Linked DNA regions of Homo sapiens: region 1 is linked to region 2. A link means that fine-mapping ties the variant in region 2 to the plasma level of a protein whose gene starts in the linked region. Region 2 holds a variant in brackets. A gene starts in the other region. All regions are shown on their reverse strands. Region 1 holds the start of LY75 (lymphocyte antigen 75). Region 2 overlaps ATXN2 (ataxin 2).

Evidence for each region. A credible set is the group of variants that fine-mapping cannot tell apart. PIP is the chance, under the fine-mapping model, that this variant and not a neighbour inherited with it causes the effect. Protein levels are from antibody-based Olink assays in UK Biobank. Linkage for the fine-mapping came from a reference panel and not from the study's own genotypes, which makes the PIPs less certain.
Region 1: it holds the start of LY75, and the variant in region 2 is the best candidate, but not a certain one, in a credible set for the plasma level of the LY75 protein (UK Biobank, PIP 0.52).

The regions. Positions count from the first base shown.
Region 1 is chr2:159,902,438-159,907,813 of GRCh38, reverse strand. LY75 (lymphocyte antigen 75) reads left to right here and starts at 3,058. Exons shown (of 35, transcript NM_002349.4): 1 at 3,058-3,225. The coding sequence starts at 3,132. LY75-CD302 (LY75-CD302 readthrough) reads left to right here and starts at 3,058. Exons shown (of 38, transcript NM_001198760.1): 1 at 3,058-3,225. The coding sequence starts at 3,132. RefSeq lists silencers at 2,856-3,097, 2,867-3,326 and enhancers at 3,507-3,586, 3,727-3,776, 3,997-4,046, 4,097-4,146.
Region 2 is chr12:111,567,819-111,573,194 of GRCh38, reverse strand. All of the region lies in intron 1 of ATXN2 (ataxin 2), which reads left to right. Among named protein-coding and RNA genes, the nearest start is that of ATXN2, 29 kb to the left of the region's middle. RefSeq lists a silencer at 2,431-2,628. The variant G/A (reference allele first, on the strand shown) is at 3,243.

The sequences.
Region 1 (5,376 bases), not on the chromosome of region 2:
TACCAAGTGAAAGGAATTCACACTATTAGGTAGATATTTGGAAGAAGGTTAACCCCTTGGTAGAAGTGTTTTACGTAAAATGTCAGATCTAAACAGAAACTTCAAGAAAGGTTGGAACTAAGACAAAGGGAAAATGGCATTCTGGATATGCATATATGGGCAGAGATAAGAAAAGGCAAGACAGGTTCAGACAGGTAGCTTGAACCAAAGAGTGACATATGAAGGGAGTAAAGAGAAAGGGTCAGATTAGGCCAGGCACGGTGGTTCACAACTGTAATTCCAGCACTTTTGGAGGCTGAGGCGGGCGGATCACCTGAGGTCAGGAGTTCGAGACCAGCCTGACCAACATGGAGAAACCCTGTCTCTAATAAAAATACAAAATTAGCCTGGCCGTGGTGATGCATGCCCGTAATCCCAGCTACTCAGGAGGATGAGGCAGGAGAATCGTTTGAACCCAGGAGGCGGAGGTTGCAGTGAGCTGAGATCGCGCCATTGCACTCCAGCCTGGGCAACAAGAGTGAAACTCCATCTCAAAGAAAGAGAAAGGGTCAAATTGTAGAGGTACTTGCTTTTTGTCTTAGAGTTTTCTTTTTGTATCATGGGCTTCTCTGGGATTCTCATGAAAGCCTTGTACCCTTCCTCCTCCTCCTCAAAACATAGTGCATTTATAAAGCTGCATAAAATTTCAGGGTTTCATAATTTCCCTTAAGTAGCATTTAGGAGCTCCTGCTATATGCAAATAGCACTGAAAGGATTTGAGTAGAAAAGTGGCATGTTCCAAACAGTGTTTAGAAGGATTCATTTGCCAGAGAGGATAATAACTGTTGGCAGTGAGGTCAATTGATAAATTATTGCAATATAATGCAAGTAGGAGCTCATATGGCCCTAGGCTAAGGTGGTGGCCCTAGGAATCCATCCATCGATTAAACTAACATTTATTGAGAGCTGACTTTGGGACAGGCCCTGTGCCCAGTGTTGAGGATGTGATAATGAATACGGCAAGACCACTGCCCTCAAGGAGCTCCAAGCTGGGCAGGATCAGAAAGAAAGGCAGGCAGCCACAGAGGCAGAGGGGATCAGGTCAGTGGCAGGTTCTCCTACTCAGAACTTCCCACCATCTGTGCCTTAGAATAAATTCAAGGCCCTTCACAAAACAGACACAACTCACCTTTCTGCTGTCATTTCCACTGGGGCCCCCACCACAACCACTTTGATCTCTCTCACAGACACACCCCCCGCAGGGCAGCTACCCTGGACTCTGGACTGTCTTCTGACTCTGCTTGCATTTTCTGGCCTCTGCCCTGTCACTGGTTTTCTCCCACCAGCTGTGCCTGCTCAAATTCCTACCCATTCTTTAAGACCCAGCTAAGATGTTGCCTTCCCTCAACATTTGTCAGAGTTTCCCCATTCATTCTGCCCTGTGTCACTGAGTGTGCCTGTATTAGGGTTCTCTAGAGGGACAGGACTAATAGGATACATGTATATATGAAAGGGAGTTTATTAAGGAGTATTGACTCATATGATCACAAGGTGAAGTCCCACAATAGGCTGTCTGCAAGCTGAGGAACAAAGAAGCCAGTCCGAGTTCCAAAACCTCAGAAGTAGGGAAGCCAACAGTGCAGCCTTCAGTCTGTGGCCGAAGGCCAGAGATCCCCTGACAAACCACTTTTATAGGTCTAAGAGTCCAAAAGCTGAAGAACCTGGAGTCCGATGTTCGAGGGTAGGAAGCATCTAGCACGGGAGAAAGGTGAAGGCCAGGAGACTCAGCCAGTCAAGTCCTTCCAACTTCTGCCTGCTTTTATTCTAGCCATGCTGGCAGCTGATGAGATGGTGCCCACCCAGACTGAGGGCTGGTCCGCCTCTCCCAGTCCACTGTTAATCTCCTTGGCAACACCCTCACAGACACACCCAGGAACAATACTTTGCATTCGTTCATATCAATCGAGCTGACAATATTATCCATCACAGTGCCTCAGTCTCCCCAGTATTCAGGGGAGGGCAGAGATGTTGTCTTTTTGTCCTTCTGTTCCATGGCGTGCCCAGATCCTGTGATGGCAGGTGCTCACTATATCTATGGAACTGAAAGGCCAGACCCTGGGGAGAGGACAGAGCAGGTTTGGGAGCCAACTGTGAAACCTTGGCAGTGGGAGTCAGGAAGAGCAACCTAGGTCTTTGCATCCTCATGCAACAAGGATGGAGGCCACCTCAAGTACACATTATGTGCTCAGCAAAGACGAGATTTAAAAGTATAAAACATTCACATTTGAGCAACTTAGGTCATTAAGAATTTGGCCTCTTTATAATGATAGCAGTGTCCACAGGAAGAGAGTGAGTGGGACATGAAATTTCTGGTTCTGCATGCAGACTTCTACATTTCTACCAGCTAATTATTATTATCATTAAATTATTAAGCAAAGAGCTTACTCGCAAAGGTCAACTTTTTATAAAGCATAAGTCATCCTTGGAAGTGTCGTTTGGTCATTCTAGTAATTCTTGCTTTTAATTCTTTAACAACTATGGGTAGAACTGCAGTGTACCATTATTCCACCTTTGTTTGCACTGTCAAAATACCCAAGACGTTGCCAAGGACGACTGAATTCTTAGGCTTGGCCGCAGCCACCCACAGGGCAGGTGCTCACTTCCTCCTCCGGGGTAGAAGAGATCATGGGTCCCTTTCCAGTCCAGGCTGGAATGGAGAAGTCGTCCCTGACCACAGTGCGCCAGGCAGAGGCCAAGGTTCTAAACTGATAGAACCCACCCACCAGGGCGGTGCCAAGTCCCAGTAAGGGCCGCATCTCCCCAGCTTGGCTGATGAAGAGGCGGGGACCGAACCCTCCAGTGCAGGAGCCTGTCTGGTGCCTGGCTCTCCCACCGATCCGCACGTACCTCTTCCTCGCGGGTCCTACCCCACGCAGGTATCTAGCGCCCAGCCCTGTTCATTTCCCACACCTGGCCCGCTCCGCCCCGGGGCCGAGGAGACGCACGTCTGATTGGCCGAGGGCGGCGGGGGCGGGGCCGGGGCGCCCCCAGAGGCCTAGACAGAGGTGCGGGCGGGGCAGGCCGCGCTCAGCAGGCGGGGCGGGAGCCGCGTGCGCCCGAGGACCCGGCCGGAAGGCTTGCGCCAGCTCAGGATGAGGACAGGCTGGGCGACCCCTCGCCGCCCGGCGGGGCTCCTCATGCTGCTCTTCTGGTTCTTCGATCTCGCGGAGCCCTCTGGCCGCGCAGGTAACCGCGGGCACGCCAGCCCCGCAGTCCGCTGGGTGCCTCGACGCCACAGCTCTGCTGCCTTCCAGCCTGGGGCAGGGCTGCGCCCCTGGGGCAGGTCACGGCTGCTTTGCTGTTGGGGCGGGGGGGCTCTGGAGCCGGAAGAGTGAGTCGCAGGGGAGGTCTGGCAGAGGAAGCGCCCCAGTGCCCTCGGGGGCCCGGAGGAGGGCGCGGTGGATGTGGGAGGACAGGGCCCTTCTGGTGCAGAGGGGACGCGGTGCACCGTAGAGTAGGCGCACGGAGGCTTTTTTGGCCGGGTGCGCTGCTCCATCGTCGCCTCTCTTATATAATGTTGCTGGAGTATGGGGTTCCCCATCTGCCCTCTTGCGTCCCGTCCCTCCCGTTCTCGCTTTTCCTTCGGCCCTTGGTCACCTTGGCCACAGGGCCAAGAGGAGCCTCCACCCACAGCGCCAAGGATTCCCCACGATTCCCGGATTTCACTGCGCCTACGGTGCGCATCAGGAAGGAAGTCAGGTTAAATAAACCATCTCCTCCGAAAGTGACCAAGACCAAGAGTCAGCTATGATGCCCTCACCCACCGCCTAGAGCAACAAACCTTTCTTCTCATTGGTTTATCAGCTCCAAATGACCCCGCTCCCCCAAGGCTGACAGCCTCACGGTGAAGGGCAGGTCGCCTGCTTGGGGACCTGCTGCCTCTCACTGCGGAAGCAGGACCAGAAACAGACAGCCTTCATTGATGTTCAGGGTAGTGCCAGCCCCACCACACCACACCCCTTGGCAGCAACCGGTTGCTTTTACTTTCTCTTTTTGCCTGGGCGAGGGGTGTGCAGAGAACTTTGTTTCTTGGTTGGACTGCATCATGGGCACTCAATGGGCCACCCTCCACCGGCCACTTCTGTTATCGTGCCTGTATGAGGAAGGAAAAGATTGTCCAGGCAGTTTGAAAAACATTAAATTGTTGGTGGCTCTTATTTTCTTTGCAGCTAAGCTAAGTTACCATCTGGTTTAGACTTCCTTCGGAGAGCGATGGGAAGAGATTTCTCAGAGTGTGAATGGCATCATCCTATCTACAGCAAGGACCTGGAAATGAACCCTGCTCTGAGTCACACTTCTCTATTCTCCTTTGACCCTGTGTGCTAGGAACTACCAAAAGAATCCTTTAAAATAAGATCCTTTATTGCCTTGATAATTTATTCTGCCTGCCCCACAATCCAAGGTGGAAAAGTTCACTGCAGCAACTAACTACAGTGAAAATGCACTAACTTTTCAATCACTAACCTCTTGGTTCCCATCGACATCTGCTTCAGTCCTGTTTTTATCTCCTTCACAAATTTCAGGATTTCCCTAATTCTTGCAATCTCTGCAATCACTGCCCTTTATCACTGACCCAAAGCAAAAAGCACCAGGTTTAACTCTGTTCCCCCTGTGCTAGGTCCCCACAGGTTTTGTTATCCTGTATCCTTCCTTACTCCTAGCAGCTACTCTGATCGATTTTCTCTCACCCTCAGAGCAGACTTGTGGCCTTGTTTGGGGAAGCACTGGAATTTTGAACCCCCAGCCATTTGGGTCAATTGTTTGGCAAGAGTGTCCGCTTCATGATGCTGGTGATGGCATGCACCTCGTCACATGTGCACGGCTAGGCTTGTGCAGGTGGCCTCTATTACCCAAACACTGAAGGAGCCCCTCTGTGTCCTTGGAGAGATGCCAGGTGCTTAGTTTACATTTTTGCCTGCTTGGAGAGCTAACAGCTTGAAGTAAACCAATCCATCAGGGACTCCTGAGGTTTTCACCAGCCAACACCACCCAATCGTGCGTGAAGACTTTCTGACTCCCTGGACATTGCCATGGACTCAACTGTCACTTCAGGACCTGTTTTTGAACTAACAAACCTAGACTTCTGATTCTCTCTTGCTGCACCTACCTGTACATTCCGAACACATGGTAGAGACTCTACAAAATGCTTAATATGTGATCTATGGACGGTTCCCCTGAAATTATAAATGCTGCCATCTTCATCCTTCTTGTTTTCCCAAGCTATTTCCCTATCCATTTGTCTGTGGTTATAAATGTCAATATCCAGCTTCTCTTTGGAATGTGTGAAGCTCTTTGGTCTAGGGACCAAAGGCAGGAATTATTTAGTGATCAGACAAT
Region 2 (5,376 bases):
AATAAATAAAAATAATAACAATAATGAAGAAAACAATCCGGTGATTATTGTCAGCAATAAAATTTCTTCAATCAACCATGCTTTAGTCCTGGCAGTTCTCTATCAGTGAGTTTCAATCAAAAAGTTTGTTTATAATTTTTTTTTTTTTAAAATTTTGAAATTTGGAAACAACATCATAAATGATGGTTAGTTTTCTGCAGCTCCCTATTTTGGCAGATAGTCTGTTGTTACTCATAATTAATTTGAACTAAAAAGTAGTGTTGTACGATATCATGGGCTGTGAATGTGTTTGTGACTTGATCTGAGAACCCACACACCACTTAGGATGCTTCTGTAGGAAAATTAGAGTATGGAACTCACTTGCCCACGCTTTCCCTGTCTCAGTCCATGTTGGTAGGCTGCAAAGTCTGGGGCTAGAAGGACACTGAACAAGACTTCAGCAGTACATGTTAGTCTTCCAGAGGGAAGGAATATAATAGTTGAGAGAATAATTCCTTTCCTCTGTGACTTTAGGCAAATTCTTGGCTATGCTGTTATTTATTTGGGCCAAACAATATCAGGAGGTTGTACATTTTATTCTTAATTACTGCGATACATTAATTTTATCCATGGGTTTAACCTAGCCTACCTTTTGCTGTTAGACTTCAACTCTACTTGTGTTGGGTTACCCCTCTGCTTAAAAATCACCCTATTCCCAAGCCTGAGGGAGTCTACCTTCAAAGCTTTCTATGACCTAATCCAAGGCCTGTCAAACTTCGTAAAGGGCCAGATAGTAAATTTGTTTTTTTTTTTTGAGATGGAGTTTTGCTCTTGTCACCCAGGCTGGAGTGCAATGGTGCCATCTTGGCTCACTGCAACCTCTGCCTCCCAGGTTCAAGTGATTCTCCTGCCTCAGCCTCTCAAGTAGCTGGGGTTATAGGCATGTGCCACCACGCTCGGCTAATTTCTTTGTATTTAGTAGAGATGGGGGTTTCACCATTTTGGTCAGGCTGGTCTCGAACTCCTGACCTCAGGTGATCCACCTGCTGCGGCCTCCCAAAGTGCTGGGATTACCAGTGTGAACCACCGTGCCCAGCCCGATAGTAAATATTTTAGGCTTTGCAGTCCATATACAGTCCCATTTTTTTGTGTATGTTTGCACGTTTTCTTTACATATTTTAAAAGCCCCTTTTTTTTTTTTTTTGAGACAGAGTCTTGCTGTGTTGCTCAGGCTGGAGTGCAGTGGTGCAATCTTGGCTCACTGCAACCTCTGCCTCCTGGGTTCAGGCGATTCTCCTGTCTCAGCTTCCCGAGTAACTGGGATTACAGGCACATGCTGCCACGCCCAGCTAATTTTTGTATTTTTAGTAAAGATGGGGTTTCGCCACATTGGCCAGGCTGGTCTCCTGATCTCAGGTGATCTGCCCACCTCTGCCTCCCAAAGTGCTGGGATTACAGGTGTGAGCCACCGTGCCTGACCTAAAAGCTCTTTACAGTGTAAAAAATATTCTGAGCTTTAAGCCATGTGAAAATAGGCCATGGGCATTTGCTGACCCCTAATAGAACTCCATTTTACCTTTCTGATCATGTTTCCCATTAACTCTTCAAAAATATGACCTCCATTTAAATCAAGATGGTCTCCTTCCTCACTGCTTGTGGAGGTCCAGTGCCCAGTGTCTGCCTCTTGCTTGCTCCTCCATCATTGTTCTGCCATTCGAGATCCTCATACTTACCCTTTAAGATCTAGCCCAAATTTTCCATGAAACTAATTCTAATAATTAAAAACTTCCTGTAGAACTTAACTTTGTCTAGTACAAGTTAGCTTTCTTATTCAGTAGTAGCTTACTATAAATTACAAGAATAAAAAGATTACCATTTTCCCTCACACTGTTTTGTGGAGAATGCCTAAAGTTACTTTTTCTTTTTACAGGTCAGTATTCCTATTTGGCATCCTAATCCCCTTTCCCAAATCTGAATTTTGGGATTTGAAGCTTGCATTTGAGATTATGATTTGTCTTCCTTGTTGTACACAGGAGCAGGGACTTTACAATTAGTATTCGCATCCCTGCTCCTTCATACTTCGTGATGTAAGGCAAGTTATTTTCACTTATGCTTAAGTTTCTTCCCCTGTAAAAAGGGGATGGAAGAGGATTAAATGAATTAAACATGTAACACGCTTAAAGCAATGCCTGGCAAGTAATAAGTGCTCAGTAACTTTTAGCTGTTCTTATTAGCATGTTTGGAAACCAGTAGAAACTACACCAGCAAGTTAAGGTTGAAAAGTGGTATTGATGGGCTTGGGGTAGTACAGTATGAATGGCTACAGTTTAGCGTTTCATTAAGTTTGTATATTCATTAATTCATTACACATTTGATGCTGTCAGACTAGGACAGAGACAAAGATGAATGAAACATTATCTCTGCTTCCAGGTTACCCAGTGTAGTAGAGAAGGCAGGCATGCAGATAGTTTAAATTGGTAGCACTGGGAGGGGACTGCCATGGGTGGGCAGTGAAGAAAAAGGGCTTCAAAATAATGAGAGTTGAGATGGATCTTCAAGGAAGATAAGCAGTTTTCAGTAAGGCCATGAAGAGAGGAGGAAGTTCCAGGCGGGAAGAGTTTGTGCTAAAGTACAGGGATTGCTATACACATGGTGTATGTAGAAAAAATTTGGTTCACAGTGTGATAGAAGAATTGGAGGGGGTCCTCACTGAAAGTAAGGAAACACATTTGGAAGAATATGTTTCAGTTAGAAAATGAAATGAGCTTAAAGTAAACGCTAATAAGGTTTTTAAAATGTAAAATTTCAACGTATTTAGAAAGAGAACAGCTGGATGAATCTTATGTACCTGTCACTCAGCTTTAGCAGTTATCAGTAAATGGCCAACGTTGTTTCAGCTATACTCCCCTCTCCTCCACTGATAGTCTTTTGAAGGGGAATACAATTGTTTTGTGGCCTCCAGAAAGGGATAAGTTTATGAGCAACGGGTAGATCGTTGGGAGAGACTTGAGTTTCCTGTCAGGAAGCATTCTTGGTGCATAAGTCAGAGGTGATATGAATGCCGTGGAAGGGGGTGGCTTACTGTCTGGAGAACTCGAGAAGATGGGAATGGGCACTGTCCAGTATTGTGGCTACTTCCACACATGGTTCTTTAAATTTAAAATTATGTTGATTAAAATTTAAATATTTCAGTTCCTCAGCCATACTAATCGTATTTCAAGTGCTTAGCTGCCACATGTGCCTAATGGCTGCAATATTGGACA[G/A]CATGACATAGGACATCTTCATCATTGTACAAAGTTCTCTTGGACAGCATGGGACTAGAGCCCTAAGATCCTTTTCTACCTGAGTTGTTTGGATTTTTTGGTGTGTCTAGGTTGGATCTAGTTGTTCATGGCTTCATGACCAAGCCTTTTATCCCTTTCTCTAGAGGGACTCAAGGGGTAAAGGCACTGAAGGGGTAAAACTTCATATGAAGAGTGTGGTGGTGGTGGTGGTGTTTTAAGACAGGGTCTCGCTCTGTCACTCAGGCTGGAGTCCAGTGGCATGATCCTGGCTCACTGCAGCCTCGACTTCCTGGGCTTAAGTGATCCTCCCACCTCAGCTCCCAAGTAACTGGAACTGTAGGCATGAGCCACCACACCTGCCTAATTTTTAAAACTTTCTGTAGAGACGAGATTTCGCCATGTTGTCCAGGCTGGTCTCAAATTCCTGGACTCACCTTGGCCTCCCAGAGTGCTGGGATTGCAGGTGTGGGCCACTGCGACTGGCCTTTTTTTTCTCCTTTACTACTCTAGTGTATGCTGGAATATGAGGAAATAATTATATTAGCTAGCAGTTATTAAACACTTAATAACATACCAGGCACTGTTTTAAGCTATGCGATCTGTATGGAATATTACTTAATTTCCACAACCTTATGAAAAGATACTATTTTTTTTCTTTTGAGAAGGTACTATTTTCATCTTCATTTCATAGATGTTGAAATTGAAACACAGAGAGCTGAAGTCACAGGATTAAGGCCACAGAGCTGAGAAGTGATGGAGCCGGAATTTGAACCCAAGCAATTAATGCTGATATTAGTTCTTGTGTGAATGGTAATTGTTTTGAAACAATGATCCTAGATGATTATATGACCGGATTAATCTGGCAGTTGTTCTGTGTGAATTTAGAGTTGCCTTCCCACCTCAGTTTCCTAAAAACAAAACAAAACAAAACAAAACAAAAAAAACTCTAGCTTCACTGTGTTTGGGTTGTCATGGCCTACCCCCTCTTGCCACCTCATTTGACTCAACTTTTTAGGGAGAAAATATTCAATACGTGGTATAGGATTTCCCTTTCTAATAATAATGTAAACAACAACAAGAAGTCTGAAATTGGAAGAACAAAATGACTCACCTAAGTGAGTTAACCTTAAGAGGTGGAACTTGATTTCTAGATTTTAGTTAATTGTCTAACTGATGTACTAAATATTAGTTACTTAAGTATTAAAACGGGTAGACATAATAGTTGGGGAGCTGCTGTAGAGGGGGTAGTTTGAGAAGGCTTCTTTCAGGAGGTGACATTTAAGTTGGTAACTAACAAGAAAGGGGCAGCCATGTGAATAGCTGGAGGGAAGAGCATTCTTACAGTTTTACTGGAAGGGGGTTAGAGGTATGTGGTACCCTTATGCCAAAGAAAATTAGTTACTTCTATACAACCAGTCTGATTCTAGAAACCTGGATCAATGAAATATTTTGATTATATAAAAAAATCTGTTACCCAGGTCTTGTTGAAATAGCATTAGAAACTACTGAAGGACATATAGAGGAGGAGTGTTGAAAAATGGTGATGGATGAGCAGAATGGTGAAAAATAAAAAGACATGAAGCTCTATAATTATATTGTATGGTGACAGTACCAATAGAGATTGCATGTTTTTTCTCCCCAGTTTTTTTTTTTGTTTTGTTTTTTGTTTTTGAGACAGAGTCTCACTGTGTCACTCAGGCTGGAGTGCATTGTCGTGATATTGGCTTACTGCAACCTCTGCTTCCTGGGTTCAAGCGATTCTCCTGCCTCAGCCTCCTGAGTAGCTGGGATTACAGGCATGTGCCACCACGCCCGGCTAATTTTTGTATTTTTATTTGAGAGGGGATTTCACCATGTTGGCAAGGCTGGTCTTGAGTTCCTGACCTCAGATAATCCACCTGCCTCAGCCTCCCAAAGTGCCGGGATTACAGGTGTGAGCCACTGCGCCCGGCCTCCCCCAGTTGTTGAAACAATAATGGAAGGTAATTTTATTCTTAGATTATTTAATGTTTTTCAGTTATCAGGATGTGTTAGATTGTTTGTGTATATTGTTTTGCTTGTTAATTAAGTAACACAGTGAATAAGACAGACAAACATACGAAAATGTACATTT